Linked DNA regions of Homo sapiens. The protein of the gene in region 4 purifies or fractionates together with the protein of the main gene of each other region. This does not show direct contact. Each region holds a gene or a part of one and is shown on either strand. Other genes may lie near its edges. The genes, in order: ECD, ENAH, ACTR3, EXO5 and TOP3A.

The links.
Region 1: the proteins of EXO5 (region 4) and ECD purify together in Homo sapiens (affinity purification with mass spectrometry, with the first as the bait; one study listed by BioGRID). This does not show direct contact.
Region 2: the proteins of EXO5 (region 4) and ENAH purify together in Homo sapiens (affinity purification with mass spectrometry, with the first as the bait; one study listed by BioGRID). This does not show direct contact.
Region 3: the proteins of EXO5 (region 4) and ACTR3 purify together in Homo sapiens (affinity purification with mass spectrometry, with the first as the bait; one study listed by BioGRID). This does not show direct contact.
Region 5: the proteins of EXO5 (region 4) and TOP3A purify together in Homo sapiens (affinity purification with mass spectrometry, with the first as the bait; one study listed by BioGRID). This does not show direct contact.

What each region holds. Positions count from the first base shown.
Region 1 is NC_000010.11:73,150,099-73,156,521, forward strand, and holds part of ECD (protein ecdysoneless homolog), read right to left. Parts: intron 6,356-6,423; coding exon 6,177-6,355; intron 4,351-6,176; coding exon 4,158-4,350; intron 2,324-4,157; coding exon 2,195-2,323; intron 1,608-2,194; exon of another isoform or gene 1-1,607. UniProt on the Homo sapiens protein: Regulator of p53/TP53 stability and function. Inhibits MDM2-mediated degradation of p53/TP53 possibly by cooperating in part with TXNIP. May be involved transcriptional regulation. In vitro has intrinsic transactivation activity enhanced by EP300.
Region 2 is NC_000001.11:225,484,436-225,490,153, reverse strand, and holds the end of ENAH (protein enabled homolog), read left to right. Parts: 3' UTR 1-3,325; downstream 3,326-5,718. UniProt on the Homo sapiens protein: Ena/VASP proteins are actin-associated proteins involved in a range of processes dependent on cytoskeleton remodeling and cell polarity such as axon guidance and lamellipodial and filopodial dynamics in migrating cells.
Region 3 is NC_000002.12:113,895,593-113,902,015, forward strand, and holds part of ACTR3 (actin-related protein 3), read left to right. Parts: intron 1-6,423. UniProt on the Homo sapiens protein: ATP-binding component of the Arp2/3 complex, a multiprotein complex that mediates actin polymerization upon stimulation by nucleation-promoting factor (NPF).
Region 4 is NC_000001.11:40,513,242-40,518,550, forward strand, and holds the end of EXO5 (exonuclease V), read left to right. Parts: intron 1-1,273; 5' UTR 1,274-1,303; coding exon 1,304-2,425; 3' UTR 2,426-2,797; downstream 2,798-5,309. UniProt on the Homo sapiens protein: Single-stranded DNA (ssDNA) bidirectional exonuclease involved in DNA repair. Probably involved in DNA repair following ultraviolet (UV) irradiation and interstrand cross-links (ICLs) damage.
Region 5 is NC_000017.11:18,302,075-18,308,497, reverse strand, and holds part of TOP3A (DNA topoisomerase 3-alpha), read left to right. Parts: intron 1-73; coding exon 74-147; exon of another isoform or gene 148-185; intron 186-1,002; exon of another isoform or gene 1,003-1,025; intron 1,026-1,531; coding exon 1,532-1,607; intron 1,608-3,277; coding exon 3,278-3,386; intron 3,387-5,774; coding exon 5,775-5,918; intron 5,919-6,063; coding exon 6,064-6,234; intron 6,235-6,423. UniProt on the Homo sapiens protein: Releases the supercoiling and torsional tension of DNA introduced during the DNA replication and transcription by transiently cleaving and rejoining one strand of the DNA duplex.

The DNA.
Region 1 (6,423 bases), on a different chromosome or scaffold from region 4:
CATCATGCTACCTGACTTCAAACTATACTGCAAGGCTACAGTAACCAAAACAGCAAGGTACTGGTACCAAAACAGAGATATAGACTAATGGAACAGAACAGAGCCCTCAGAAATAATGCCACATATCTACAACTATCTGGTCTTTGACAAACCTGACAAAAACAAGAAATGGGGAAACGATTCCCTATTTAATAAATGGTGCTGGGAAAACTGGCTAGCCATATGTAGAAAGCTGAAACTGGATCCCTTCCTTATACCTTATACAAAAATTAATTCAAGATGGATTGAAGACTTAAATGTTAGACCTAAAACCATAAAAACCCTAGAAGAAAACCTAGGCAGTACCATTCAGGACATAGGCATGGGCAAGGACTTCATGTCTAAAACACCAAAAGCAATGGCAACAAAAGCCAAAATTGACAAATGGGATCTAATTAAACTCAAGAGCTTCTGCACAGCAAAAGAAACTACCATCAGGGTGAACAGGCAACCTACAGAATGGGAGAAAATTTTTGCAATCTACTTATCTAACAAAGGGCTAATATCCAGAATCTACAAAGAACTTAAACAAATTTACAAGAAAAAAACAAACAACCCCATCAACAAGTGGGCAAAGGACATGAACAGACACTTCTCAAAAGAAGACATTTATGCAGCCAAAAGACACATGAAAAAATGCTCATCATCACTCGCCATCAGAGAAATGCAAATCAAAACCACAATGAGATGGTAATCTCACACCAGTTAGAATGGCGATCATTAAAAAGTCAGAGAACAACAGGTGCTGGAGAGGATGTGGAGAAATAGGAACACTTTTACACTGTTGGTGGGACTGTAAACTAGTTCAACCATTGTGGAAGTCAGTGTGGCGATTCCTCAGGGATCTAGAACTAGAAATACCATTTGACCCAGCCATCCCATTACTGGGTATATGCCCAAAGGATTATAAATCATGCTGCTATAAAGACACATGCACACGTATGTTCACTGTGGCACTATTCACAATAGCAAAGACTTGGAACCAACCCAAATGTCCAACAATGATAGACTGGATTAAGAAAATGTGGCACATATACACCATGGAATACTATGCAGCCATAAAAAATGATGAGTTCATGTCCTTTGTAGGGACATGGATGAAGCTGGAAACCATCACTCTCAGCAAACTATTGCAAGGACAAAAAACCAAACACCGCATGTTCTCACTCATAGGTGGGGAATTGAACAATGAGAACACACGGACACAGGAAGGCGAACATCACACACCGGGGCCTGTTGTGGGGTGGGGGGAGGGGGGAGGGACAGCATTAGGAGATATATCTAATATAAATGACGAGTTAATGGGTGCAGCACACCAACATGGCGCGTGTATACGTATGTAACAAACCTGCACGTTGTGCACATGTACCCTAAAACTTAAAGCATAATAATAAAAAAAAAAAGAAAATCTAGACATTCCTATCAATGTCTAGATTGTAACATTTTTGAAAGCAAACAAAAAAAAAAGAAAAACACTATTTTGTAGCTTTAAAGTGCATTTCTTTTATTATGAGTTAAGATTCAATATTTTTCATATGTTTAAATTAAAGGTCACCTGTATTTCCTTTTCTGTGGACTATGTTCATAGTTCTGAACATTTTAAAATTAATTGGCTAGTATTATCATTTTCATATTGACTTAAAGGAACACTTTATGTATTAGAGAAGTCAGCTCTTTTTCATTTAGATTGCAAATATAACACTTTTTCCAGATTTGCTTTTGACTTTATTTATGGAGTTTTTCTTTCCCGTGCAGAAATGCTTAATTTTTGCATAATCAAATTCATCAGTCTTCCCTTTATAGCTTCTGGTTTCAAGTCATGCATAGAAAGGCCTTTCCTATTCAAATTATAAAAGGTTCTTGGTTTTTTTTCAAATTGTATAGTTTCAATTTTTATGTTCAAATATTTGATCCAATTGGAATTTATTTTGGTATAGGTATTAGGGAATCAACTTCAATTTTTCAGATGACTTCAGACTTGTCCCATCATCACTTACTAAGTAATCCATTTTTTTCATTCTAATTTGAAATGCCACATTTTACTGCATTCTTACATAAACAGGGTGTATTTCTGGACTTTGTATATTGTGCCACTATTCTATTAAGAGTCCATTTACATAAAGAAAGGAAACAACATTTTCTGGTTCAACATTACCAATTTCATGCCCAATTCATGGGCTCGGTACTGGGGATCAGATGGAGGAGGCAGCCTGTATCCACTCCGCCGGTCTGGCACAAACCTTTGTTGCACCAATTGTGCATATAGACATTTAGTGAATGTGACCTGGGCATCAAGACACAAAATACATGAGTCTTTTCCTGAAATTAAGATTGTGAATAACACTTCACAGTTAAATATAATGAGAAGTCCATTTATAAGCTTCATATTCATATGAAATGCAAAGAAGATTCAACCTATTCATTGCCTACTTGTTTTTAGTAACAGCTTTATTGAGATACAACTCACATACCATAAAATTTACCCTACTGCTGGCCAGGCATGGTGGTTCATGCCTGTAATCCCAACACTTTGGGAGGCCAAGGTGGGCAGATCATCTGAGGTCAGGAGTTTGAGACCAGCCTGGCCAACATGGTGAAACCCCATCTCTACTAAAAATACAAAAATAAGCCAGGCATGGTGGCGCACGCCTCTAATCCCAGCTACTCGGGAGGCTGAAGCAGGAGAATTGCTTGAACCCGGGAGGTGGAGGAAGTTGCAGTGAGCTGAGATTGCTCCACTGCACTCCGGCCTGGGCAACAGAGCAAGACACTGTTGCAAAAAAAATTTTACCCTACTGCCTACTTTTTAGTAATCGCTAGTAAAATTCTTATCATTAGTTACATTATACAGCAATTAAATGGCTGGAAGATAAAGATAATTCATTTTTTCTATTTCTGAGACAGGGTCTTGCTCTGTTGCAGAGACTGGAGTGCAGTGAGCAATCATGGCTCACTGAAGCCTCAGGGATAGGGTTTCACCATGCTGGCCAGGCTGGTCTCAAACTCCTGACCTCAGGTGATCTGCCCACCTTGGCCTCCCAAACCTCCTGGGGTCAAGCAATCCTCCTACCTCAGCCTCCGAAGTAGCGGGGATTACAGGCGCCCACCACCACACCTAGCTAATTTTTTTATTTTTTGTAGCGATGGGGTTCACCATGTTGCCCAGTCTGGTCTCAAACACGTGGGTTCAAGTGATCCACCTGCCTTGGCCACCCAAAGTGCTGGGATTACAGGTGTGAGCCACCATGCCCGGCCAAGAATAATTCTTAATTCTCTGGAAGAGATGAAATGTTTTATTGTTAAGAAGGAAATAATTAGGCTGGGTGCGGTGGCTCACACCTGTAATCCCAGCACTTTGGGAGGCTGAGGTGGGTGAATCACTTGAGGTCAGGAGTTCGAGACCAGTCTGGCCAACATGGCGAAACACCATCTAAAAATAAAAAAATCAGCTGGGCGTGTTGGGAGGTGACTGTAATCCCAGCTACTCGGGAGGCAGGAGAATCGCTTGAGCCCAGGAAGCAGAGGTTGCAGTGAGCTGAGATGGCTCCACTACACTCCAGCCTGGGTGAGAGAGTGAGACTCTGTCTCAAAAAAAAAAAAAAAAAAAAAAAAGGAAATAATTATAGAAATAGAAACATATGGTCAAAAATAGCTATAAAACATTGAGTATAAAATGGGGAGGCAGGTCTCTTGAAAATTTCCTTCACTGGGTGCAAGAAAAGAAAAAACGTGTATAGTTTGAGCATCCCAAATGTAAATATCTGAAATCTAAAATGTTCCAAAATCCAAAACTTTTTGAGTCCCAACGATATGCTCAAAGTTTTGAGATTTCAGAATTTTCAGATTTGGGATGCTCAAGTAGTAAGTTTAATGCAAATATTCCAAAATCCAAATAAATCTGAAATCTGAAATACTTCTAGTCCCAAGCATTTCAGATAAGGAATATTCAATCTATATTAACATGCTATGAAGAAACAGAATATTTCCTTTTTTTTCTAGAGAACAATTAAAATAATGTTTCATTCACTGAGCACTGAGAAATGTAAAAAGAAAAAAATAATAATGTTTCAACTCGGTTTCCAGTAAGAGAAACTAAATGACCAAGATAGAAATCTCACCGATGTCATTATTCGTGTTTCAGGCAAGAATGTCTTGAAAACACGACAAGCTCGCAGGTCAATAGGGTCTCGTAGGTAAAATGCCTGGACTGCTGCAGCCACCAATCTGGGGCGCTGCTTTAGCACTGCCACAATGCCAGCTGGAAGGAAGCAGTGTGCTCGATGAAGTGAGGCCTGAATTTTTTCTGGGTACCTGGGACAGGTAACATAATTACTTTCATTTTACAGTATATAAATACCTATAATTCTTATACCATTCACATTCTTTTTGACATCTCTTTGTTCATCAAGAGCAGTACGTAGAGAGTGACAAGAGAGATGAAAAAAGATACTGTATATACACTTAAGAATATACGAGAGAGGGAAAGAAAAAAGTAGGAAGAAATGGAAAATAAAGAAAAGGGATTATTGTAGCTCTATAAAAACAAAACAACTTTGGGAGGCTGAGGCGGGTGGATCACGAGGTCAGGAGATTGAGGCCATCCTGGCTAACACGGTAAAACCCCATCTCTACTAAAAATACAAAAAATTAGCTGGGCGTGGTGGCATACGCCTGTAGTCCCAGCTACTCGGGAGGCTGACATAGGAGAATCGCTTGAACCCGGGAGGCAGAGGTTGCAGTGAGCCGAGATCACGCCACTGCACTCCAGCCTGGGCGACAAGAGCAAAACTCCATCTCAAAAACAAAACAAAACAAAAATACCTATTATACTTTGGAATAAAGATAAAATCAGAGTTTATTCTTCTAAAAGAATGGTACAAAGTATGCTGAAGCTAAAAGAGATTTTTATTTTTTATTTATTATTATTTTTGAGACGGAGTCTCGCTCTGTCGCCAGGCTGGAGTGCAGTGGTGCAACCTCGGCTCACTGTAACCTCCACCTCCCTGCAACCTCCACCTCCCAGGTTCAAGTGATTTTCCTGCGCTCAGTCTCCCAAGCAGCTGGGACTACAGGGGCCTGCCACCACGCCCGGCTAATTTTTTGTATTTTCAGTAGAGACGGGGTTTCACCATGTTGGTCAGGATGGTCTCGATCTCTTGACCTTGTGATCCACCCGCCCTGGCCTCCCAAAGTGCTGGGATTACAGGCGTGAGCCACCGCGCCCGGCCAAAAATATTTTTAATATTGTTAATACCTGAATGGTGCTTAATATTTAATAGGCACCCAAATTTGAATGGATGAACGAATATGTAATTAGGCTAAGACCTTTCTTTTCTGAATAAAAGCTAAAGTTTTATTCAGAAACTGAATTCTGACATAGGTCAAAGAATCCCATATACAGACCCAGAACAACAGAAAAAACCTGAGCACCTTGTTTGTGCTCCATTAGGTTTCTACTTTTTTTTTTTTTTTTTTTTTTGAGATGGAGTTTCCTACTGTCGCCCAGGCTGGAGTGCAGTGGCGTGATCTCAGCTCACTGCAACCTCCGCCTCCCGGGTTCAAGCGATTCTCCTTGCCTCAGCCTCCAAAGTAGCTGAGATTACAGGCACCTGCCACCACGCCCTGCTATTTTGTTTTTGTATTTTTAGTAGAGATGGGATTTCACTATGTTGGCCAGGCTGGTCTTGAACTCCTGACCTCATGATCCGCCCCCTGCTCAGCCTCCCAAAGTGCTGGGATTACAGGTGTGAGCCATCGCTCCAGGCCCATGAAGTTTCTATTTTTAAAGGTCTCAAATTTTTTACCCATGGATATAGCTAATACTTAGCCACAATATCTAAGGTAAATAAATGCAAAAATATTGGGACAAGATTGTAACACTTCTGAATGGGAATTTAAAGATGTATCTGTTTCCTGATTTTAAAATCTGTAAGTTTAATTTACTAGTCTATTTCATAAAGAGGAATGAAGACAAAATGAAAATTAGCATTAATCTAGGTGAAAGGTATTTTATAGTCAAAGAAAGACTGATCAACTCCAACAGAGCTTTAAGGAAAACAAACAAAAATCAAAGAAAGACTGAACTACACGAAACCAAAAGGTTCCTTAATTAGCAATGAAAGTGATATTTTTCTTACCCTCTGATGCGCCTATTCACAGCAGCTCGTATAGATTCTGAAGCAAGTATTTTTTCTGAATGTGCTGTGATTATATTCAATGCTTGTGGAATTGTTGGGGGTGTGGTGGGTAACCAAGATTCTGCTCCAGATTTTCTTGGTGCAGGGATAATACACAATTCCCCATGGCAGAAAAATACCTGCAAACGGTACATTTCAATTTTCACAGTGGGCACTGGCAAACTGCAGGTACATATGAATGTAATGC
Region 2 (5,718 bases), about 180 Mb from region 4:
TGTGGAGTTGTGGGCAGGTCATTGGACTGGGACTGACTTTACCAGTTTTCAGGCTGTGGGGCTAGTCAGTCATTCTCTCTGAGCCTTCTACCTCTAAAGTTGAGTTCTTTTTTTAAATTCTTTTTGTTTTGTTTTTATTTTTTCCTTGCCACTATACAAGCAAGGATAGATAAAGCTTTTTATTATTATTGTTATTATTATTATTTCGAGACAGTCTCGCTCTGTCATCCAGGCTGGAGTGCAGTGGTGTGATTTCAGCTCACTGCAACCTCTGCCTCCCGGGTTCAAGCGATTCTCCTACCTCAGCCTCCTTAGTAGCTGGGACTACAGGCATGCGCCACCACACCCGGCTAATTTTTGTATTTTTAGTAGAGACAGGGTTTCACCGTATTGGCCAGGCTGGTCTCGAACTCCTGACCTCAGGTGATCCACCCACCTTGGCCTCCCAAAGTGTTGGGATTACAGGCATAAGCGACCGTGCCCATCCCCGATAAAGTTGAGTTCTGAATTTCCTCTTTCACTGTATTCTCGGCAGCTACTGGTTGGTTTATTCTTTTTTTTTAATCTTTTTTGGTTTATTCTTCTTTTGATCTTTGAAGAGAAGGAGAAAAAAGATCTGAGTTTGGCTCTCCCATCTTAAGTGCAGCTTTTAGTTGTTTTATAGTCATAGACGCTATTGCACTGGACAGCATGCATCCTGGATGTAAACAATGCGGAAAAATCAATGGAGTGACCATCTTGGGGTCAGTGGTGTTGCATAAAGCACCAGTGGTGTGCTGTTCTGTGTCAGTTTCCTCTGCGCCACGTGCTTTCACAGTTTGAATTACCAGCATCTCTGTGGTGGCTTCAGTACATTCTCCATTGTGCTTCAACCTGGAAGCACATTCTGCCGTTCAGAAAGACTGATTCCAATCATGTAATGGGACCACACGAGATCCATGCTCCAATTATATGAATAGCAGAAGGTCCATTTGACTCTTGTAGTTCAAGAGCTGTTTCTAAGTAAACAGACTTTCCAGAGCTCGATGAAGTGAAGAAGCCCTTCTTTCAATTCCTGGGCAGAATTCAGTGGTTTTCATATCATCTGAACCTGCTGTGCTGCTGTTTATTCTATCACTGTCAGCCTTGAAAGGAAAAAAGGAATAATCTTACCCTCCTGCCCTTCTTATTTTATATCTTCCATCTTATCCATCTATATCCATGTAGTCATTCCTTCCGAGTTCCCTGGTTTTAATCCAAAAGACTCTGTTTAACAGCAATGTCTTGGCAGACCAGGTGCCGCTTCCGTGCCATTTGAGGGCTCTGAGTCTTTGCTTCGTCTTAGGAAGATAAAGATAATTTGGCAGAAAGTCAGAGATGGAAATAGCAGTTTGGGATGATAAAAGATGGGTCCTGTTTTGCTGACATTCTTTTACTTTGGTTCTTGGTGCGTGTCCTTTGGGATTCATTTCTTGCTAGCATGAATAGGACATGCTTTTCGTTAGGTGCTTTTCTTTTTTGGAGAACATGAAGTGTTTCTAACAAAACTGAATGAGCTAGAAAGAATTCTATTTTGAGACATCTGTAGTTGATGCAAAGTATTTCTGTAATCCTCAATGACAGTACTTACATATTTGCATAGAATTTTTTTTTTAATTTTTGAGGAAACCTCTCTGGAGTCTGTATTTATAGGAGCATCCTGAAAGTCCCTATTATGTAGCTGGTGGGAGCGAGAGAGGGACAGCCACACTCGTGCTGTGAGCAGAGCACAACTTCAGGCAGAGTGAATGCCTTCTGAGTTCTCATTGGAAGCTTTCTGTTGCTCAGCCTCTGGCAGATTTCAGAACCTTCTACTTAAGCCAGGTGTGGTGGTGCGTGCTCCTAGGCACAGCGACTCGGGGGGCTGAGGCAGAAGGATCACTTGAGCCCAAAGTTGGAGGCCAGCCTGGGCAACATAGCGAGGCCTGTCTCCTTAAAAAATAAATAAATAAATAATAAATAAATAAATAAATAAAAACCTTGTCCTTGACTATTGTGCTGTCTGCTGCCCCTTTGTAGGGATGGGGTTGGGGTCAGAATAAGCATGTGCATGAATGGCGGAAAGCTTTGGTGGTGTTTGTTTGTTTGTTTGTTTTTTGAGAGGTGGGGGAGTCAGCAGTGAACCTTTCTGGTTAAAGAACAACGTACATAATTTCTATTATGAGATTTAGAAGGTTAAATACTTTTTTTTTTCAGGCCTACCAAGTTGATAGACCAAAAGTATATAGTAGAACAGCACAGTAGAAAAAATTTAAAAGTGAATTTCTTATGGTCCAAAAGGATGGATAGTCACAGTCCATAACCTTTCATAATATATGCTGGAATTGGAATCTCTTGTCATCTTGCTTTGCTCTGAATTTTAGAACTAGAAGTGTGCATGTATGTCAAAAGATTATGCAGAGCTATTTTCTTTGCTAACAATGTAAACATTTGCACCCCATGAATGGGACTTTATAATCTGGAAGTGAGCCTAAGGTTGCGTATACTGAAGTCATGTTTTAAAAGTTAAGGTTGACTTAAACATATACAAGGCTGTATTTTAATTGTAACTAGAAATCATTTACTATGCATACAGAACCTCATGTATCTTATCATGGAATTTGTGAATTAATGGGCCTTGCCGAATTCAAGGGTAAGGGAAACTGGTAACAACTTGTTTTAAATCAACATACTATAAGCTCCTGCTTGCTTGACTCAAGTTGTTTGAAAATCTGAATTAAACAGGATCTCATTGTCAGGAAACATCTTCTAAGCTTGACATCTACGTTTAAGAAGGGAACGTGGAAGAGAAGGTGAGACATGAAACTAAAACAGCTGGGAGGGTAGGATCAGACTGCACCTGATTTTTGGACCAAAGTTTCATATAGGAATAAATAAAAAGGAGGACCACTTGTGAGCCAACCTAGGAAGGACTTGCCAGAAAGTAGCAGCTCCTGCTGCAAAATACAGTGCCTTCAAAATGATTCTCTGTGTGAATTGCATGCAATTTCATGTAACCATAAAGTGTAACCTGTATGTGCATGACATGTGTCTAGAATGTGTAAAGTTAGGATTCAGCAGGAAGGGGCCTGGCCCTGTCACTGTGGTGGATCAGTGGACCTGCTGAAGTCACTGGACTCATGTGACTTAGGTTTGCAGCATCAGACCCCTGTGTTTGCATTAAGTGGCCACATCGTTGAAATCGGATCAATCTCTCCCTCAGCTTTCTTTCCTACTTTGCAGCTTTGCTGGTTTTAACTGCTTCATTCTTCTGCTTCTTGGTATCCTTTTTTCTTTTGAAATAAAAACATGAAATACTTAATTCAAATGAGATTTGTATTTATTTTACCAGTTGCTCTTAATTTACCAAAGGTATACGACATGAAAAGAGTTGCATTCTTTTGTCTTGGTTGTGATTCTGACCTTAAAATACGCTCAGTTCTAAAAGCTTGAGGAGCGTTCTATACTGGTCCTTCTGCATTTCAGCCTGTCACCAAGGGGAGTGTTTTGCGATCCGCCATCCTTTCCCTGAATGCTGCTGCTCCTCTATGACGGAAAGCTTGGTGACCTCTTCATTGGAGGCGTCCAAAGCCAGTGAACAGCCTGTTGGTAAATGAACGAGCTGCATGTACGTGCTATTTTCCTCCAGGACCAAATGCCCTGTGCATTTTAGTATTAAGCGTACTTACTGCAGGAACCAGTACTGGGACCACTGCAAAACTACACAATGGTGCAAGTGCTTTGGGGCTTTGAAGAGCTGAAGACAGACATAAGACTTAGTGTTCTCAGGCCGGGCATGGTGGCTCATGTCTGTAATCCCAGCATTTTGGGAGGGGTGGGCGGATTGCTTGAGTCCAGGAGTTCAAGACCAGCCTGGGTGACATGACGAAATCCCGTCTCTACAAAAAAAAAAAAAAAAAAAAAAAAGGACTTGGTGTTCTCACTTTGTGACCATCCTGCCCCTCACTGGAGGTCCCTAGAGGCAGGTGCCTTTCAGCTAAGAATATCTGGGAGTCTGTGGTTTGTGAGGAGCTTGCTGGCACATTAGTGTAAAGGGTGTGATCCTTTTAATGGCCACACTTTTCTGTATGATGTCTTTGTTTTCATTCTCTGATGTCAGGGAGGTGAAAAGAAGGCTCAGGTGAAAAGAAGGTTCATCAACTGAACCAGAGTAACTTGTCACCTCCTTTTTTGCCAGCCTCATTTCTAAATAGACTGAATGTCTGTTACCTCTCCTCTCCTTTTCAACTGAGAAGCCCTTGGTGTACAGCGGAAAGGGGCTGTAGGGGAATGCATTTTGCCACTGCAGTCATGAGCTGACCCAGCCTTCTGTATTCTTGGATGTTTTCATTCTAGGCTGAATCCCATTGTGTTATGGCAAAGAGGCCAGACCCTAAGAGACTATATGCTGAAAAGATTTGTGAAGCCCCTCAGTTCCCAGTAACTTTTGGAGCTTATTGTCATGAGATTGCTACCCTAGCCCTGGGCAGTGTGGGCAAGGACACCGTGGCACCTGGGCACTGAGTCCGGGAGTTGTATTTTAGCCTTCTCTCCTCTCAGCTGTAAAGTGAGGTGTTTAGGTCTTCAAAGGTCATTCCAGCTCCAGCTTCTATGGTTTCAATATGCTGGGGGTATCTGGCTGAGGCTCCCCACCCAGGTGGCCCAGCTGACAGTGACAGTATCATAGAGTGCGAGATAGCCTCTGTCACCACACTGACAGCTGCAGACACTAGTATGGAGGGGTTATGTGGGTGAAGTTCAAGGCGTCTCTCTGTGAACAAGCTAGAAAGAACCACTCATTTGTCATTTCTCCTTGGCCACAGGCTCTCATGGCAAAGGCCTCTGACTGAGGAGTAACACAGCGTTGAACCAATTTTAATATTGCAAGGCCACTCCTGTGGGTAAAGGCATTGGAGATGTATGCTTCAAAGCATTTTTAAAAGTCACCTGGGATATGACAGTGATGTCTATCCTTGGATGATTATAGCTCTTAAGTCATCACTCCCGACCCCCAAGACAAAAACGAGTCTGAGAAGCCAGGAAGCTGGTTTGCAAAAAATGTGTCGCGTTGAGTTGGGCCTTTCCTGCCACAGCTCCTGCCGCTGGGTGAAGTGTTGGAACCCTACAGACAGGTCCTGTCGCAGCCAGCTGGGAAGCCGAGGTGAGCAGGCCTCCTGGGACAGATGGGGCCCCACTGATGAGGCCACTGAAGCCCCACAAAAGGGCTGGCTGCTGTCAGGAGCCTCCACAGCTGGGATTGCCCACCACGTTTTGGCTTTTTTAAAAAAACTTTTTTTAATTTTAGAGATGGGGTCTGGCCATGTTGCCCGGGCTGGTCTCACTCCTGGGCTCAATCCTCCCACCTCAGCCTCCCAAAATGCAGGGATTACAGGTATGAGCCACCATGCTCAGCCTTAAAAAAACTTTATTGAAGTAAAACATATGGACAGAAAAGTGTACGTATGCATACAGCTCACTATCTTGACAAACTACACCCATTTGCACAGCACCCAAAGCGAGAAAAGACGTCAAGACCCAGAAGCCCCCTCGTGTTTCCTTCCAGCCACTCCCTCCCAGCATCACCCCTCTCCTGACTTCTGACCCCCGAGGTTGCTGTGTTTGTGCTTGATGTGAAGGAATCCTGCTATTTTGTGCTTGGTTCCTTTCTCCCAATATTGCATGTGAGATCATCCGTAGTGTGTGTAGTGGTGGATTGTCTGT
Region 3 (6,423 bases), on a different chromosome or scaffold from region 4:
TTTGCAGAAATTCTGAAACCTGGTATTGGCGGTGGAGTTGGAGCAGAAGAGATAAGTTAGGAAAAGATTGGTTTTTTCCTTTCTTTTTACGTTTCTTCTGGCAGTTATATTTCGTGTTATTTTATTTACGGGTAGCAAAGGCTTTGTAGTTATCTGTTGTTGAGTTCAAGCTCTATCACTTAATAGCTATATGACTTTATACACTTCAACCTCTGCAGGTCTTATTTCTTCCCATCTGTAATTTGGAGATGATAGTGTATACCTTATAGGTTTTTTTTGTTTGTTTTTGAGACTGGGTCTCTGTTGCCCAAACTGGAGTTCAATGGCAAGATCATGGCTCACTGCATCCTCAAACTCCTATGTTCAAGCTGTCTTCCTGCCTCAGTCCCCCGAGTAGCTGGGACTACAGGCACATGCCACCATGTGTGGCTACTTTTAAAAATTTTTTGTAGAGATGGGGTCTCACTGTGTTGCCTCAGGCTGGTCTCAAACTTCTAGCACAAGTAATCCTCTTGCCCTGACCTCTTAAAGTGTTGAGATTACAGGAGTGAGCCACCATGCCCAGTTTTGTTTTGTTTTGTTCTGTTTTTTGATAATGTGTGAAAATGGTTCAGCACAGTGCCTGGCACACAGTAAGGGCACAATATATTTTAAATATAATAATTGGTTGGCTTTCTTTTTTTTTTGAGTTTCAGTTCTTAAAGAAAGGAATACAGTGTGTTATGCTTATTTTCTTATCTCCTGCAGGCCTTGGCCTGCCTACCACACACAGTTCTCTGCACAGTCAAAATGTTTTTGCTGATTTGAGAGATTGAAGGAGGTATAGCTAGGACTTGGCAGTTGATTCCAGTGGATTGTAAATAGGCATCAATGAATAGTTCAAGATTGTAAGCCTGAGTGATTGGGACAATAAGGGAGTTAGTTTTAAGAAACTGAGTAAAATTGGAATTTGTTGTTGAATTTGGAATGATGATTTATAATTGGAAACATTCTAGAGGAAATTAAAAATACAGGACCTTTGGGAATGAAGGTGGATATTTGGGAATCATAATTTGTTAACTGAAGCTAATAAGATGAGAGCATTCAGAGAGAAAAGAACGGAAAGATTGAATATCAGTTTCCCTTCTTTAAAAAAATTGTGGATATGTGATCTAGCTTCTTGAGCATCACAGTGACTGATTGGCTCGTGGTAATTGATCGCTATGCTGACAATCTTATCTCCACCTATGTCATTCAATTTTCTAAGAGGCAAAATCCTTAATCAGGAGGAGAGTTTAGCTCTAGCTAAATTTCCCTTGTCCAGCATGCTCCTGCTCCCCCAACTTGTGGAAACAGCTAAAGGATTGGACTAGGAGCAGAAGTTTGGAATGGTTAAAATGTAGCAACATGTGTTTCCTGAAACAAAATTCCACTATAATAAAAAAAGCATTTGAATGCTCCCTTGTAATTCTGTTGGAGCTTGTTGCCTTTTTTATGACACAACCATAATCAGTGATAGACAGTAGCATAAAGAAGCAAGAGCAAAGCAATTAAGTAATAATAGCACTACAAAAATGTGTGCTGTAGCTTACCAAACACGACATTTATGAATTATTAGATAGGAGATAAGGTGATGTTATTGGATTGTTTTAAATTTAGTTCTTTGAAATAGGATAGTGACTAATATTAGTTTGTGTGCTGATTTTATAACTTTATATGGGCCTTTATATCAGGAAACAACGTAACCTACATAATTGACTAATACCAGAGCAAAAAAAAGAAAAAAAATTCTAGTTTTTTTAAAGGACGATTTTGCAGAATTTTAATAATAATTTTGTTTCAGAATTTTCAAAATTCTTTCCAAACTGTCGATTTAAACTCAAGCCATTCTTACATACTCCTTGGAACCAGGAAAGGAATAGCTTGAATTTGTGTGGCCAGATGTTATTTTTTTTTTTTTTTTTTTTTTTTTTGAGGCAGAGTGTTGCTCTGTCACCCAGGCTAGAGTGCAGTGGCGTGATCTTGGCTTGCTGAAACCTCCGTCTCCAGGGTTCAAGCTATTCTTCTGCCTCAGCCTCCCGAGTAGCTGGAATTATAGGCACCCGCCACGATGCCTGGCTAATTTTTGTGTTTTTAGTAGAGACCGGGTTTCACCATATTGGCCAGGCTGATATTGAACTCCTGAACTCAAGTGATCCACCCGTCTCGGCCAGATGTATTCTTTCAGCTTTCCTTCTGCTCCCCAACCCTAATACATACCTGAGAAGAATATTCATCTGTTCGGATACTCAACATGCCATGTTTTCCTCCTGCCGAAGGACATTACCTAAACGTTTTATTTTTAAACATTTTGTCCTTGCTTTAAGACTTTGTGTCATTTGTGAAAATGCAATGCTCTTGGGAAGGGTTTCTGTGCTTTTCAGTATTTAGTGTAAAGGAGAGGTTACAATGAGGAGGATAAAAGTCCTAGAGAGAGAATTAGGGTGCAGAAGACCTTGTAGTTTAGGGTTGGCTTAATCTACTGTAAACATGTAAACCATGTTTTTAGTATTAGTGTATGACAGGACACAAGTGTTTGCCTAGTTATAGAGATTATTTTAGTTAAATCTAGTGTGCTTCTGCTATAAGCATTTTTAAAATTCAGTTACTCAAGGGTACAAATATAGCATTTAATGTGTATTTGTGAAACTTGCTTTAGTAAATTAAGGGAAATGCCTAATGACTCACACAGAATTATAGAGCTGAAAAGGGATTTTGAGAGATAATTTAATCCAGTCTTCATTTACAAATGAAACAGAGGCTCAGAGTTGAGAAATGTCTTTTGGGAGTGTTCCTAATTATTAATTGATAGTATTGTTGAGTTCTCTTAAATTTTCTTGTGAGTTCACATTTATGAGTTAATAGTTGAAATTAAGTAATTGGAATAACATAATGTATTTTATTTATAGTTAAAGTAGTTTTAGTTGAAGCCTACATCAGAATTCTTCAGTGTTTCGTTGTAATGCAGAGGCATACTGTATGGCACACATGAGAAACTAATTTTATGTTTCCCAATAATAATGTTTTAAACCAAGTTTAGAGATATTTTAAAAGTTGTGCTCTGTAGGTGCCAGGACAGATGACTTTCATAAAATGAATGCTCTCTTTAAAAAAATTTTTCTTTATGGTTTCAGAGATTTATATCTTTGGATTTTAATTATTAAAGATGTATTAAATGGGATGTGTACCAATCAGCCATTTCAAGGCCCTTTGCACGTTTTGTTTTGGATGTTATTACCTTTTCAGAAGCCCTGTGAGGTAGTTACTGTTATAAATAATCCCATTTCAAAGATAAGTAGTAGATTTAGAATTTTAGTCCTGGGGTAGTCTCATTCCAGAGCTCACTGCTCTACTGTTCCCTAATTGAGATACATCCAAGGAGAGTGGTCAAATTATTAGTCCAGTTTTTAAGAGTGTCCATTTTATACATACTTAAACCCAAAGCTACTAATTTTTAGTACAAATATGAAACATATAGGGAGGTCTTAGTGACCAGTTCACTGATTTGATTAACCTATAACACATTAAAGTGAAATATGGATTTGCTTACTGCTTATTTGAGTATTGCAAGGACTGATAATTGCTGATAAATTCAGGGCAGCTCAAGGAAATGATGCTAATTACATATATCTTCAAAAGGAAGGCATACATATTTCTGAAGCTGCAATTTGAAAATGAATAATCTCCACTGATGCATTACTTACTGTAATTATTTTACTCACTATGTATTATGTGCTCATTAATGACTGCACAAAACACATATGAAAGTAAAAAAATAGAAGAACTTAAAGTAATCAAGTATTTATTTCAGTCTCAGTTCTGTGCTGAACACTATGGTATATACAAGAAAACTAAGGCATGATTTTATACTTGAGGTTTACAGTTTAGTTTCAAAGATGAAACTAATATGTGTGAAATAATTATGGATGGCTTACTAGCATTTAATTGTTTGGGCAGATTAATAAGGGCTGTAGTATTTGGAGGATGATTTATGAAGAAGCTGAACTTGATCAGATCCTTGGAAAAGCATAAATAGGATGTGATAGATATATGGGAAGAAGGACTTCAAATCTAGGATGTGAGCTAAATTGAAAGCTCCATAGTGGCAGGGATTATTTCTTTTTTGTGCATTCTCTATTCAAGTGATAGCGTCCTGCATGATATTTAATAATGCCCAGCAAATATTTTACTGATAAAGGGAAGTCATGAAGGAGTTTCAAAGTATTTGGGGGATGGGTCAGTTAGGAAATTGCCCTGCCTGGAATTCAGATATTTCTGTTGGGAGCTGTGGGACAGCAAGTAGTTTATTTACTCATCTTGCCTTATTTCAGAAGGATTTTAAATGGGGCAGAATGGTTTGCGATTTATTTGATAGACAGTAGTGGATTGTGTAGATCATTAAGCAAAAGAGTGATAAAAGGTAAATTTATGCACTATTAGTCTGGGTCTAGTATTTTACTTTATACAGCTTTATTGAGTTATAATTCACATACTGTAAAGTTTACTCTTTTAAAGTGTGTAATTGAGTAGTTTTTAGTATAGTCACAAGGTTGTGCAACTATTTCCAGTCAATTTCATTTTTTTTTAATGCCTGGATGCCACTTATTGGAATCCAATCAATTTTAGAACATTTTCATGACCCCAAAAAACCCTACACCCAGTAGCAGTCACTCTCCGTTACCTCTACCCTCAACCCTTAGCAAACACTAATTTACTTTCTGTCTTTATGGATTTGCCTATTTTGGCCATTTCATGTAAATGGAATCATACAATTTGTGGCTTTTTGTGACTGATTTCTTTCATGGGGCAAGTGCTGACTGCTGTAGTCGTTGTCTTCAGTGGTGATGGACGTATAGCAAAGGGACTGGGAAAACGTTGAGAATCTTTGAAAGCAAAATTAAAGGAATGGGTAGAGGGATAAAGGAAGGCCTATGGATAAAGGAAAATCATCTTGGGAAGGAAATGTTTACCAAATACTTAGTGAGTTTTATTCACTGTTAGGTCCTTTAATCCTTATGACAACCTCATGAATTTAGTTTTATTCCCGATGCATTAGGGATAGTCTATGATCACAGGATCACAGGCTAGTAAATGGTGGAACAAGCATTCAGTCATGTCTTCTTTATTTCAAGGTTCATGTTCTCCCCACTAGTGAAAAGGAGTTAAGATTTTAAGGTTTAGGCTTGAAGGGACCAGGAGAATGTTTCTGTTGACACACAGAGTAGGCGTCCAGGTTCTTCACTCAACAGTCCATCAGTATTTTTGTGTCAGGTTAAACATTGACTTGCATGTCATGAGAAAAATGTTGGAGGGAATTGGAAAAGTTTTTTAAACCATTGCTGTTTATCTTTATAGCTAATATTGTCTTACTCTACTTGACAAATTTCCCTGTGAATCAGCCACTGCATTCTTGTTTTAAAAGTTTCTGGCTGGGCACGGTGGCTCATGCCTGTAATCCCAGCACTTTGGGAGGCCGAGGCCGCAGATCACCTGAGGTCGGGAGTTTGAGACCAGCCTGACCAACACGGAGAAACCCCATCTCTACTAAAAACACAAAATTAGCTGGGCGTGGTGGCGTGTGCCTGTAATCCCAGCTACTTGGGAGGCTGAGGCAGGAGAATTGCTTGAATCCAGCTACTCGGGAGGCTGAGTCAGGAGAATCGCTTGAACCTGGGAGGCAGAGGTTGTGGTGGGCCAAGATCGCGCTGTCGCACTTCAGCCTGGGCAATAAGAGCGAAACTCTGTTTCAGCAACAACAAAGTTTCTAACACCAAATTACCTTTTTGGGCTTTGGTATTGTATGACGAAAACTGGGTAAGCTGAGAATTAAGATATTATGGGAGTAGGCATTGGGATCAATTAGTAAACTCTGTTTTCATTTGGGATTTATTTGGTAATCATATCTTACATAAAATTATATAAGATGTACTTTATTTTTATGATATGGTAAGAGTATAAGCAAGTCATTCATATTAAGATAGAATTATTTGAACTTTAGTGGTTGTCAGTGTTAAGGTTTTGGAAAGAGTTGTGCTAGATCATTAAAGTCTCTTCTATCCTTAAGCTCTGGGGTCTTATATTTATTTTGTTATATCATTTCATTTGTTGAACTATTGAAAGTTAAAACTTGTTCCGTATGTAGAGGCACAGGCAGAGTAGATTTAGCATCATTCTTAAGGGCCCTATAATTTTCAGAATTGTAATGGAACATTGGCTTCAAAGTCACCACTATATTAGCCCCTAGCAAGAGAGTGTAATTGTACATGTTTTAATGTACAAGCATTTGCAATTTGTAAAATTAAAAATAATATCCAAGGCAAAGGATGTTAATGCTTTTACAATGCAGGCATAAGTTGTTTTACTACTGAAAAAGATTCTATTAATGGATTTCTTTTAGGTAGGTAC
Region 4 (5,309 bases):
TGTCGCTGTAACATCCTCTTATTATTTCATGCATTAATTTGTGTTAGACTATATTTATTTGTATCTATATATAGTTGATCTTTGAATTTTGCCATACTAGGTTCCTTGAACTGCATTTAAAAACAGTTATTGCAGAGCTCCTTTTTCTCAAGGAACAGTTTGTAGTTGAGATTCATTTTGCTCGTCAAGGACTTTGTATAAAGGAAATTGTAGAAAGTGGCCCATGGTAAACTTCTCAAACATTGTTCCTACATTTACAAAGATGTATATTCACTTAAAATAATGAAATACTCTTTCAAGTCAATAGAATTTTGAAGCAGAAAAGGCAAACCTCAAATCTCCTTTTTTTTTTTTTTTCTTTTTCTTGAGACAGAGTCTTGCTCTGTCACCCAGGCTGGAGTGCAGTGGTGCAGTCTCGGCTCACTGCAACTTCCATCTCCCTGTTCAAGCAATTCTGCTGCCTCAGCCTCCTGAGTAGCTGGGAATACAGGTGTGTGCCACCATACCTGGCTAATTTTTGTATTTTTAGTAGAGATGGGGTTTCACCATGTTAGCCAGGCTGGTCTTGAACTCCTGACCTCAAGTGATCTGCCCACCTCAGCCTCCCAAAGTGCTGCGATTACAGGTGTGAGCCACCCGCCCCGCCTCAAAGCTCTTTTTAAATCTGAAGAAACTGAGGCCAAGAAAGGTGATTTGCTTAAAGTCACACACAGTATGTTAGTGGAAGATCCAGGAATAAAACTATTTTTCCACTTAAAAAATTCTGCAGTGGCTCATGCCTGTAATCCCAGCACTTTGGGAGGCTAAAGTGGGTGGATCATGAGGTCAGGAGATCGAGACCATCCTGGCTAACACAGTGAAAGCCCGTCTCTACTAAAAATACAAAAAATTAGCCAGGCGTGGTGGCGGGCGCCTGTAGTCCCAGCTACTCGGGAGGCTGAGGCAGGAGAATGGCATGAACCCGGGAGGCAGAGCTTGCAGTGAGCCGAGATCGCGCAACTGCACTCCAGCCTGGGTGAAAGAGCGAGACTCCGTCTCAAAAAAAAAAAAAAATTCTGCCAAGAGATATATATGGATATATATAAGGAGCCCTATAGCAATACATACCTGGACTATAACTCAAGGCATTACTAATTGGTCATAAATAAACTGGCTTTTTAAAAGAATGTAAATAAATAATTTGTCATAATTTTGTTTTTATCTCACTGAAATTTGAAAGTGCTTTTGAGAACGTTTTTATTTGAACAATGCATTTCTTTAACATGTTATGCAGGGCCCTTCTAGCCCAATCCAGAGCTGTACCATGGCAGAGACAAGAGAAGAGGAGACAGTGTCAGCAGAAGCCTCAGGGTTCTCAGACTTGAGTGACTCAGAGTTCCTGGAGTTTCTGGACCTAGAAGATGCCCAAGAGTCAAAGGCTTTAGTTAACATGCCTGGCCCATCTTCTGAATCCCTTGGGAAGGATGACAAACCCATAAGCTTACAAAACTGGAAAAGAGGATTGGATATATTATCACCCATGGAGAGATTCCACCTTAAATATTTATATGTCACTGACCTGGCTACTCAGAACTGGTGTGAACTGCAAACAGCATATGGGAAGGAGCTTCCTGGTTTCTTGGCACCTGAGAAGGCAGCTGTGTTGGACACTGGTGCCAGCATACACCTAGCTAGAGAACTAGAACTTCATGATCTTGTGACTGTCCCAGTCACCACTAAAGAAGATGCTTGGGCAATTAAGTTTCTGAACATACTTTTGCTGATTCCTACCCTGCAGTCAGAAGGGCACATCAGAGAGTTTCCAGTGTTTGGGGAAGGGGAGGGTGTACTTCTTGTTGGAGTGATTGATGAGCTGCACTATACAGCCAAGGGGGAACTGGAGCTGGCGGAACTCAAGACACGCAGGCGCCCTATGCTCCCTCTGGAAGCTCAGAAGAAGAAAGACTGTTTTCAAGTCAGCCTATACAAATATATCTTTGATGCCATGGTACAAGGAAAAGTGACCCCTGCTAGCCTAATCCACCACACAAAGTTGTGTCTAGAAAAGCCACTGGGGCCATCAGTGCTGAGGCATGCCCAGCAGGGAGGCTTCTCTGTGAAGTCTTTGGGTGACCTCATGGAACTTGTCTTCTTGTCTCTAACACTGTCAGACCTCCCAGTTATTGATATCTTGAAGATTGAGTATATCCACCAAGAGACTGCCACTGTGCTGGGTACTGAGATTGTAGCCTTCAAAGAGAAGGAGGTGAGAGCCAAGGTGCAGCATTATATGGCCTACTGGATGGGCCACCGAGAGCCCCAGGGAGTTGACGTGGAGGAGGCTTGGAAGTGCCGGACGTGTACCTATGCAGACATTTGTGAGTGGAGAAAGGGCAGTGGAGTGCTCAGCTCTACACTGGCGCCCCAAGTCAAAAAAGCCAAATGAATAGAAGGTATGCTTTCAAGAATGTTGATCCTTCCTGCTCCTGTTGTACCTAAGCAAAAGAGGACCAGTCTCTGAGCTTGGCTTTTATGGAGAGTGTTCTTATTTTGGTTCTTTTTTTTATTTCCACAACCTCTAACCACATTCAGTCCAGGACCAAGGCTCAGGGATGAGTGGGAGAGATGGGTTATACTGTCCCTGGAGCTTCATCATGATTGCCTGAGAAGACAGATGCTCATCATGGCTGGAATGAAGGTATCCTTCAGTAAACTTTGCTTTCCTAAGAAAATTCTTCAGTTTCTGATAAGTCATCCCTATTTTTATCTTGATCAAGGCTTTCTACAGTTACATAATAAAATGAAATGCTGTCCAGGACAGTTGAACTGATGGTTTTTTCATAACTGCAGTCCTTCAAAGATGACCACCATATATAGTTGTGTACGTGTTATTCCAAGCCTTTAAATATATACATAAACATATTTTGGAATCAGAATGAGCAGACCAAAACATAAACAATAAATATTCTCAAAGAGACAAGGGAAGATGAAGTAGAAACAGGAAGTCATAAATATTAGATACGAAAAACATAATACATGGCTGGGTGCGGTGGCACATGCCTGTAATCCCAGCACTTTGGGAAGCTGAGATGGGTGGATCACCTGAGCTCAGGAGTTCAAGAGCAACCTGACCAATACGGTGAAAGCCCGTCTCTACTAAAAATACAAAAATTAGCCTGGGGTGGTGGCGTGCGCCTGTAGTCCCAGCTACTTGGGAGGCTGAGAGAGGAGAATAGCTTGAACCTGAGAGGCAGAGGTTACAGTGAGCTGAGATCATGCCACTGCACTCCAGCCTGGGCAACAGAGTGAGACTCTGTCTTAAAAAAAAAAAAAAAAGAAAAATAATACATGAAGTAACATGTAACATTCACATATTGCAATCCAGCAGTAGCACTCCTGGGTATATGCTGGAAGAAACCTACATGTGCAATAGAAAATGTGAACATGAATATACTTTGTAGCACTTTCACAATAGCAGAAGCCTAGAAGCTACCCAGGTGCCCATCAGCAGAAGAGTGGAAAATGTACAGTAGCCAAAACAAATGAGCTACAGTGACATAAAACAATATGCATGAATATTAGCAGCACAACATTTGGTGAAAAAAGTCCTGAAAATTACATACAGCATGATACCCTTTTTATAAGGTGAAAAATAACATTTAAAGGAAAATGTAAAGGTAGTGGAGAGGAATCCCAAGCCATCTTAGAAGGCAGTGGAGCTCTTAACTACAAACATCATCAAAGCAGCTAGAGGAAGGATGATACGGACGTCACCTGGAAGATAAGGACTTGCTTGTGACACTACTGGAGAATTTGCAGAAGTCAATGCATGGGGAGGGCAATTGGCAGGGGTAGAGTTTCTGTATTAACTGGAACATTAAGAGCCAACAGAACATGGTGAATGTTGTTAGTATGATTCCATGTTATACATGAGCTGGTAAATCCTGGACATCTGTAGGAGATAAGGTAGGTTGTCTCTGGAGGCCCTTCTTCACATACTCTTCTTATGGACCCTGGAATCTTATGATGACTCTTCACTGAGTGACTCTTATGGCCAGGCACTGTGCTAAGCACATTATAATTAAATCTGTATCCATTATCTCCAGTGAGGGAACTGAGGCCTAGAAGGGTTATATAATTTTCTCAGCTGGGTGTGGTAGCTCACACCTGTAATCTTAGTACTTTGGGAGGGGAAGGTAGGAAGATCACTTGAGGACAGGAGTTCAAGACCAGCCTGGGCAACATAGCAAGACCCCATCTCAAAAAAAAAAAAAAGCCAGGCATGGTGGTGCATCCCTGTAGTCCTAGCTACTTGGCAGGCTGAGGCAGGAGGATCACTTGAACCCAAGAATTCAAGGTTACAGTGAGCTATGATCATGCAACTGCAAAAAAAAAAAAAAGTTTCCAGGGTTCCACTGTTTGAAAGTGGTAGACTCCAGGCTAGATATGTCTGACGGCAGTGCTTATGCTCTCAATCATTATGCTATTAAAGTTTTCTTGTTGAACATCCTGGACTGTATGTTATTATAGGCCCTAGTAAGTTTAGAGTTAAATGAACCTAAATTCACTGGACCTATGGGATAAATGGTATTAAGCTAATAGTCTTCAAGAAAAGAACTTGCTCAAGTTCTATAGCATCATCTTAGTTATACTAGAAGTTTTAAGAACAGGAAAAAGGGCTGGGCGTGGTGGCTCACCTGTAATCGCAGCACTTTGGGAGGCTGAGGTGGGCGAATCACCTGAGGTCAGGAGTTGAAGACCAGCCTGGCCAACATGGTGAAACCCTATCTCTACTAAAAACACAAAAATTAGCTGGGTATGGTGGTACACACTTGTAATCCAAGCTACTCGGGAGGCTGAGGCAGGAGAATCGCTTGAACCCAGAAGGCAGAGGTTGCAGTGAGCCGAGATCACACCACTGCACTCCAGCCTGGGCGACAGAGTAAAACTCTGTCTAAAAAAAAAAAAAAAAATTTGCCGGGCGCGGTGGCTCACGCCTGTAATCCCAGCACTTTGGGAGGCCGAGGCGGGCGGATCACCAGGTCAGGAGATTGAGACCATCCTGGCTAACACGGTGAAACCCCAACTCTACTAAAAATACAAAAAATTAGCCGGGCGAGGTTGAGGCGTCTGTAGACCCAGCTGCTCGGGAGGCTGAGGCAGGAGAATGGCGTGAACCTGGGAGGTGGAGCTTGCAGTGAGCCGAGATGGCACCACTGCACTCCAGCCTAGGCGACAGAGCAAGACTCCATATCAAAAAAAAAAAAAAAATTTGTTTTCAGATACTGACATTATTGAGAATTCAGTAATTCCTTGAGATTTCAAATCCT
Region 5 (6,423 bases), on a different chromosome or scaffold from region 4:
TCTCATTTTAATGATTTGGCAGAATAATAACTGCAAAAAGACTAACTGAATTTTGAATTTTGTCATCATTCAGAATGTTACCATGGTAATGACTTCAGTTTCTGGACATTTACTGGCTCATGATTTCCAGATGCAGTTTCGAAAATGGTCAGTACAATTCTCAAGGGAAGGACTTTCAGATTATAGTAAGTTGTGAAATTTCACAGGAATTTTGAGGCATGTTGATCTTACTGGGTAATTTTTTTTTTTTTTTTTTTTTTTTTTTTTTTTTTTTGTTGGAGACAAAGTTTCAGAGTGAGACTCTGTCTCCCAGGCTGGAGTGCAGTGGTGTGATCTCGGCTCACAGCAACCTCTGCCTCCTGGGTTCGAGTGATTCTCCTGCCTCACCCTCCCGAGTAGCTGGGACTATAGGCACGTGCCACCACACCTGGCTAGTTTTTGTATTTTTAGTAGAGACAGGGTTTCACCATGTTGACCAGGCTGGTCTCGAACTCCTGACCTCAGGTGGTCTGCCCACCTCAGCCTCCTGAAGTGCTGGGATTACAGACCGTGAGCCACCATGCCCGGTTTTTTTTTTTTTTTTTTTTTGAGTCAGGGTCTCGCTGCGTTACCCAGGCTGGAGTGCAGTGGCGCAATCTCGTCTCACTGCAACCTCCGCCTCCTGGGTTCAAGCGATTCTCATGCCTCAGTTTCCCAAGTAACTGGCCTTACAGCCATGTGCCACTACACCCAGCTAATTTTTTCTATTTTAGTAGAGATGGAGTTTCACCCTGTTGCCCAGGCTGGTCTTAAACAAAGCAGGGTTTGCCTTCTTTTGCCTCCCAAAGTGCTAGGATTACAGGCGTGAGCCACTGTGCCTTGGTAATTTATTTATTTATTTATTTATTTTATTTATTTTTTGAGACGGAGTTTTATTCTGTCGCCTAGGCTGGAGTGCAGTGGCACAATCTTGACTCATTGTAACCTCCACCTCCCGGGTTCAAGCGATTCTCCTGCCTCAGACTCCCGAGTAGCTGGGACTACAGGTGCCTGCCACCACGCTTGGCTAATTTTTCGTATTTTTAGTAGAGACGGGGTTTCACCGTGTTAGCCAGGCTAGTCTCGATCTCCTGACCTCGTGATCCACCCACCTTGGCCTCCCAACGTGCTGGGATTACAGGCGTGAGCTACCACGCCCAGCAGTAATTTATAATACTAAGATGACCTAGGATTATCTGATCCATTGTGAATTTTTATTAAATCTTTAAACAGTCACTTTTGGTGTTCCTCAAAATTGCCAGACCTTTTTCATGCAGCCATTGGATTGCATTTACCTGTGAAAGGGCTCCAGAATGCCATCTTATCAGTCCTGTTCACACTCTTGGAGAAGTGGACAGTGTGTCATGCAGAGGGTCATAGCCTTACTTTCAATTCACCGGGACCTTTTCTTTTGGGGATACACCATGAACCCATTGGAACAGTTTGCTGTCATTAGATTGGAGGGCTCTCTGTCATGTACTGAGTTGGGACTCTGTTTTCATTTCTTTTCTAGGCAGAGCTGCAACCCTCTTGTCCTCTTTGAAGCAGAAATTGAAAAGTACTGCCCAGAGAATTTTGTAGACATCAAGGTAGGGTCTTTTGGAAGACATATGGCACTGAGTCAAACCACAGAGTCAAACAGAGTGATTTCTTTGTTTTTAATGCATTGGCATTTGGAGATAAGGTTTTCCACCAAAGTCACTACCATGATTTAAAAAGCTGGTTCCCACCCATTGTATAAATGTGGCTAAGTGGCCAAGGGACTGAAGTAAACTTTTTTTATGAATGGTAGTTGTTTAAATCCTAGGAATAAAGGCTGGACATGGTGGTTTATGCCTGTAATCCCAGCAATTTGTGGGGCCAAGGCAGGATCACATGAACTCCAGGAATTTGAGACCAGCCTGGGCAACATAGTGAGACCCTATCTCTCAAAAAAAAAAAAAAATTTAACCAGGCATGGTGATGTATGCCTATAGTCCCAGCTACTAGTAAGGCTGAGGAAGGAGGATTACTTGATCCCAGGAGGCAGGAGGTTGAGGCTGCAGTGAGCCGTAATCACACCACCACACTCCAGCCTGGTGAGAAAGTGAGACCCTATCAAAAAATAATCCTAAGTATTGTAAATTATTAGCGCGTAGCCCCCATCTCACCCCTTGTTAGATGAAAGAGGCTACAAAGTATAAATGCCTGTTTGACAGTAAATTGCCAGTTGTCAAGCAGTCAGGGCATGTATAGTTAATTTATTTTTAATTTTTATTTATTTATTTATTTATTTTTTGAGACGAAGTCTCGCTCTTGTCCCCCAGGCTGGAGTATGATGGTGCAATCTCAGCTCACTGCAACCTCTGCCTCCAGGTTCAAGCGATTCTCTTGCCTTAGCCTCTCAAGTAGCTGAGATTACAGGCGCCTGCCACCACACCCGGCTAATTTGTGCATTTTTAACAGAGATGGGGTTTCACCATGTTGGCCAGGCTGGTCTCGAACTCCTGACCTCACGTGATCCACCCGCCTCAGCCTCCTAAAGTTTTGGGATTACAGGTGTGAGCCACCGAGCCTGGCCAGTTAATTTATTGAGAACTGATAAAACTTTGGATGAAATTCAATTGGGATTCATTTTGTTTTGTTTTGTTTTGTTTTGTTTTGAGATGGAGTCTTGCTCTGTCACCCAGGCTGGACTGCAGTGGTGCGATCTCGACTCACTGCAAGCTGCGCCTCCCGGGTTCATGCCATTCTCCTGCCTCAGCTTCCCGAGTAGCTGGGACTACAGGTGCCTGCCACCATGCCCGGCTAATTTTTTGTATTTTTAGTAGAGACAGGGTTTCACCGTGTTAACCAGGATGGTCTCGATCTCCTGACCTCGTGATCCACCCACCTCGGCCTCCCAAAGTGCTGGGATTACAGGCGTGAGCCACCACGCCCAGCCGGCTTCGTTTTTTTTAACTAGGTCATAATCAGAACCTCTCGAAGTGTGCGTGCGCGCGCGCGCGCGCGCGTGTGTGTGTGTTAGAGCTGAATTTCAGGTTTTGTCATATTGGGGAAGTTATATTAAACCCTCTATTCTAGAAACTCGTTTATGGTTCTAAGGGGTTGTATCATGATTAGCACCAATGAGAGCAGTTTTCTCTGTTCTCTTTCCCTTGCCAAGTTGTCACACTCCAAGAGCAGCATTAACCTTCAGTCAGATCCCCTTAGCTTAGAGATGTCAAGTCACTGTTGTGCAATTCTGTTCTCACCACTCTTATTCCACTGCGAACTTAAGAAAACTTTGGAACGAGAGACTCGCCAGTGCCAGGCTCTGGTGATCTGGACTGACTGTGATAGAGAAGGCGAAAACATCGGGTTTGAGATTATCCACGTGTGTAAGGCTGGTAAGTGCTGCTGCTGCTGCTGACTTTCTCTACTTTGGAACTCCATAAATAGAGTGTTCTTGTTTATATGTGCACATGGGCCACGGATGAGGTCCTCTGCAGGTACTCTCCCTCCCAGTCTGTGAGTCCCACCAGCCATGTGTCCTGGAGCAAATCACTGAGCCATTGGGAGCCTCAACTTCCTTGTCTCTAACATCAGGCCAATCTGACATGTTTCCTGGGACTGCCACAGAGATTAGATGAGTTAATGAGTGGTGTAAACCATTTAGCCCAGGACTCATTTCTTGTTAGGTACAAGCATACAAGCAGATACCCGGCTCCTTGAGAACAGGGACTTTATATTCTTTTTGTTGTTGTTGTTGTTGTTATATATTGAATTCTTTTAGTATTTGGTTAATGGAAGCAAAAATAGAAAAATAAAATTACATATTGAATATGTATAAAAGAATGAATATACCACAAGTAAAGTACAAAAAATAATTATAAAATGTTCTGTTTTCTTTTTTAATCTCTCATATTATACAATGCTCGACTATTAATAAATAATTGTTGCAGTGGATTTAAAGGCTCTAACAGTGTTAATGGTTTTGGGTAACTTAGAGGGAGTGATGAACAGGCCATTCTCTGGCTCAGAGGGTGGGGTTGCTACTTTCCTTTAGTGGTTTTGTGTTCAAAGCTGTAATGACTCCTGGAAATTTAAGTGCATTAACTTTCAAGGACAGTGTGTATATGTCCTATATTCTTTGCTGAAGGGACATGAAATTCCCCTACAGAACCCTTTAATTGACAATATTTTTCTTTTCTCAAAAGGCCTGAGAGAGCAAGTAAGATTAAAGTTGCAAAAGGCAGCCAGGCACGGTGGCTCATGCCTGTAATCCCAGCACTTTGGGAGGCTGAGGCAGGTGGATCTCCTGAGGTCAGGTGTTCAAGACCAGCCTGGTCAACATGGTGAAACCCTGTCTCTACTAAAAATACAAAAATTAGCCAGGTGTGGTGGCGGGCGCCTGTAGTCCCAGCTACTCAGGAGACCAAGGCAGGAGAATTGCTTGAACCCAGGAAGCAGAGGTTGCAGTGAGCCGAGATTGCACCACTGCACTCCAGCCTGGGTGACAGAGTGAGACTGTCTCCAAAAAAAAAATGTTCACCAAGAGCATTTTAGTATTTTAGTTATTGGAGGGGGCCTGCCCCTCCACACCTGTGGGTATTTCTCACAAGGTGGAGACGAGAGACTGAGAAAAGAAAGAAGACACACACAAAGTAAAGGGGAAGAAAAGTGGGCCCAGGGGACCGGCGCTCAGCAAGTGAAGACCTACACCAGTGCTGGTCTCAGTTCCTCAGTATTTATCAATCACTATCTTTACTATCTCAGGGAGGGGAATGCAGTGTGACTATAGGGTGTTGGTGGGGAGAGGGTCAGCAGGAAAACAAACAAAAGACTGTGTCATAAATAAGTTTAAGGGAAGGTGCTGTGCCTGGATGTGCACGTAGGCTAGATTTATGTTTACCTTTACATAAACATCTCAGTGCAGTAAAGAGTAACAGAGCAGTATTGCCGCCGTGATGTCTCGCCTCCAGCCATAAGGTGGTTTTCTCCTATCTCAGAATAGAATATATGGTCGGTTGTACACCGAGTCATTCCATTCCCAGAGACGTGCAGGAGACAGATGCCTTCTTATCTCAACCGCATAGAGGCCTTACTCTTTCACTAATCCTCCTCAGCACTGACCCTTTACGAGTGTCGGGCTGGGGGGCTGTAAGTCTTTCCCTTCCCACGAGGCCATATCTCAGGCTGTCTCAGTCGGGGGAAACCTTGACAATACCCAGGCTTTCTTGGGCAGGGGTCCCTGCGGCCTTCCACAGTGCATTGTGTCTCTGGTTAATAGAGAGTGGAGAATGGCGATGACTTTCACAAAGCGTACTGCCTGCAAACACATTTTTAACAAAGCACATCCTGCACAGGCCTAAATCCTTTAAACCTTGAGTCAATACAGCACATGTTTTTGTGAGCACAGGGTTGGGACAAGTCACAGATTATTAACAGCATCTCAAAGCAGAACAATTTTTCTTAGTACAGATCAAAATGGAGTTTCTTTATGTCTTCCTTTTTCTACTAGACACAGTAACGATCTGATCTCTCTTTTCCCCACAGTTACTAGCTAAAATTAACTCCATCACTATTTCTGACAGTACACTCAGTTTAAAGGTTATGGTGATGTTTCCTCTTTAGACACTGTACACCATTGATTTAACCTAATAGGTAAATTGGTCATCTCACAGCTTCTTGAACTGGTTTGCCTTTATTTCAAGGGGCTTTAAGAAAAGTGAGTCCTTTATGATGGAGGGCAGTGTGATTTGACTTTGACCTTGGTAACACCTTGTGTTCTGCAGTAAAGCCCAATCTGCAGGTGTTGCGAGCCCGATTCTCTGAGATCACACCCCATGCCGTCAGGACAGCTTGTGAAAACCTGACCGAGCCTGATCAGAGGGTGAGCGATGCTGTGGATGTGAGGCAGGAGCTGGACCTGAGGATTGGTGAGGAGCTAGGCAGACCTCTCCCATGGCCACATTAATGTTGTGTTATGGGACCAAAAATGGGCTCTGTGTCGATATGTGCAGCCAGCCCTGGACTCTCATTATCCATCATTTTCACCTTCCTTCACTCTCCTTCACTCTCCAGGAGCTGCCTTTACTAGGTTCCAGACCCTGCGGCTTCAGAGGATTTTTCCTGAGGTGCTGGCAGAGCAGCTCATCAGTTACGGCAGCTGCCAGTTCCCCACACTGGGCTTTGTGGTGGAGCGGTTCAAAGCCATTCAGGCTTTTGTACCAGAAATCTTCCACAGAATTAAAGGTAGGGCCTGGAGTGGGTGTTATGGCCTGGGACCTATGGGCTCAAGGTTAAGGAGGGGGACTGTGAGCATTAATAGCACTAATAAAGATGTGATTTATTTTAGTCTTGCTGTCATCCTCCCTGGCCCATTACAATCCACTTAAAGTTCCCTTTGTTATCCAGAAACTCCTCCCTATTTGATATTCGTTT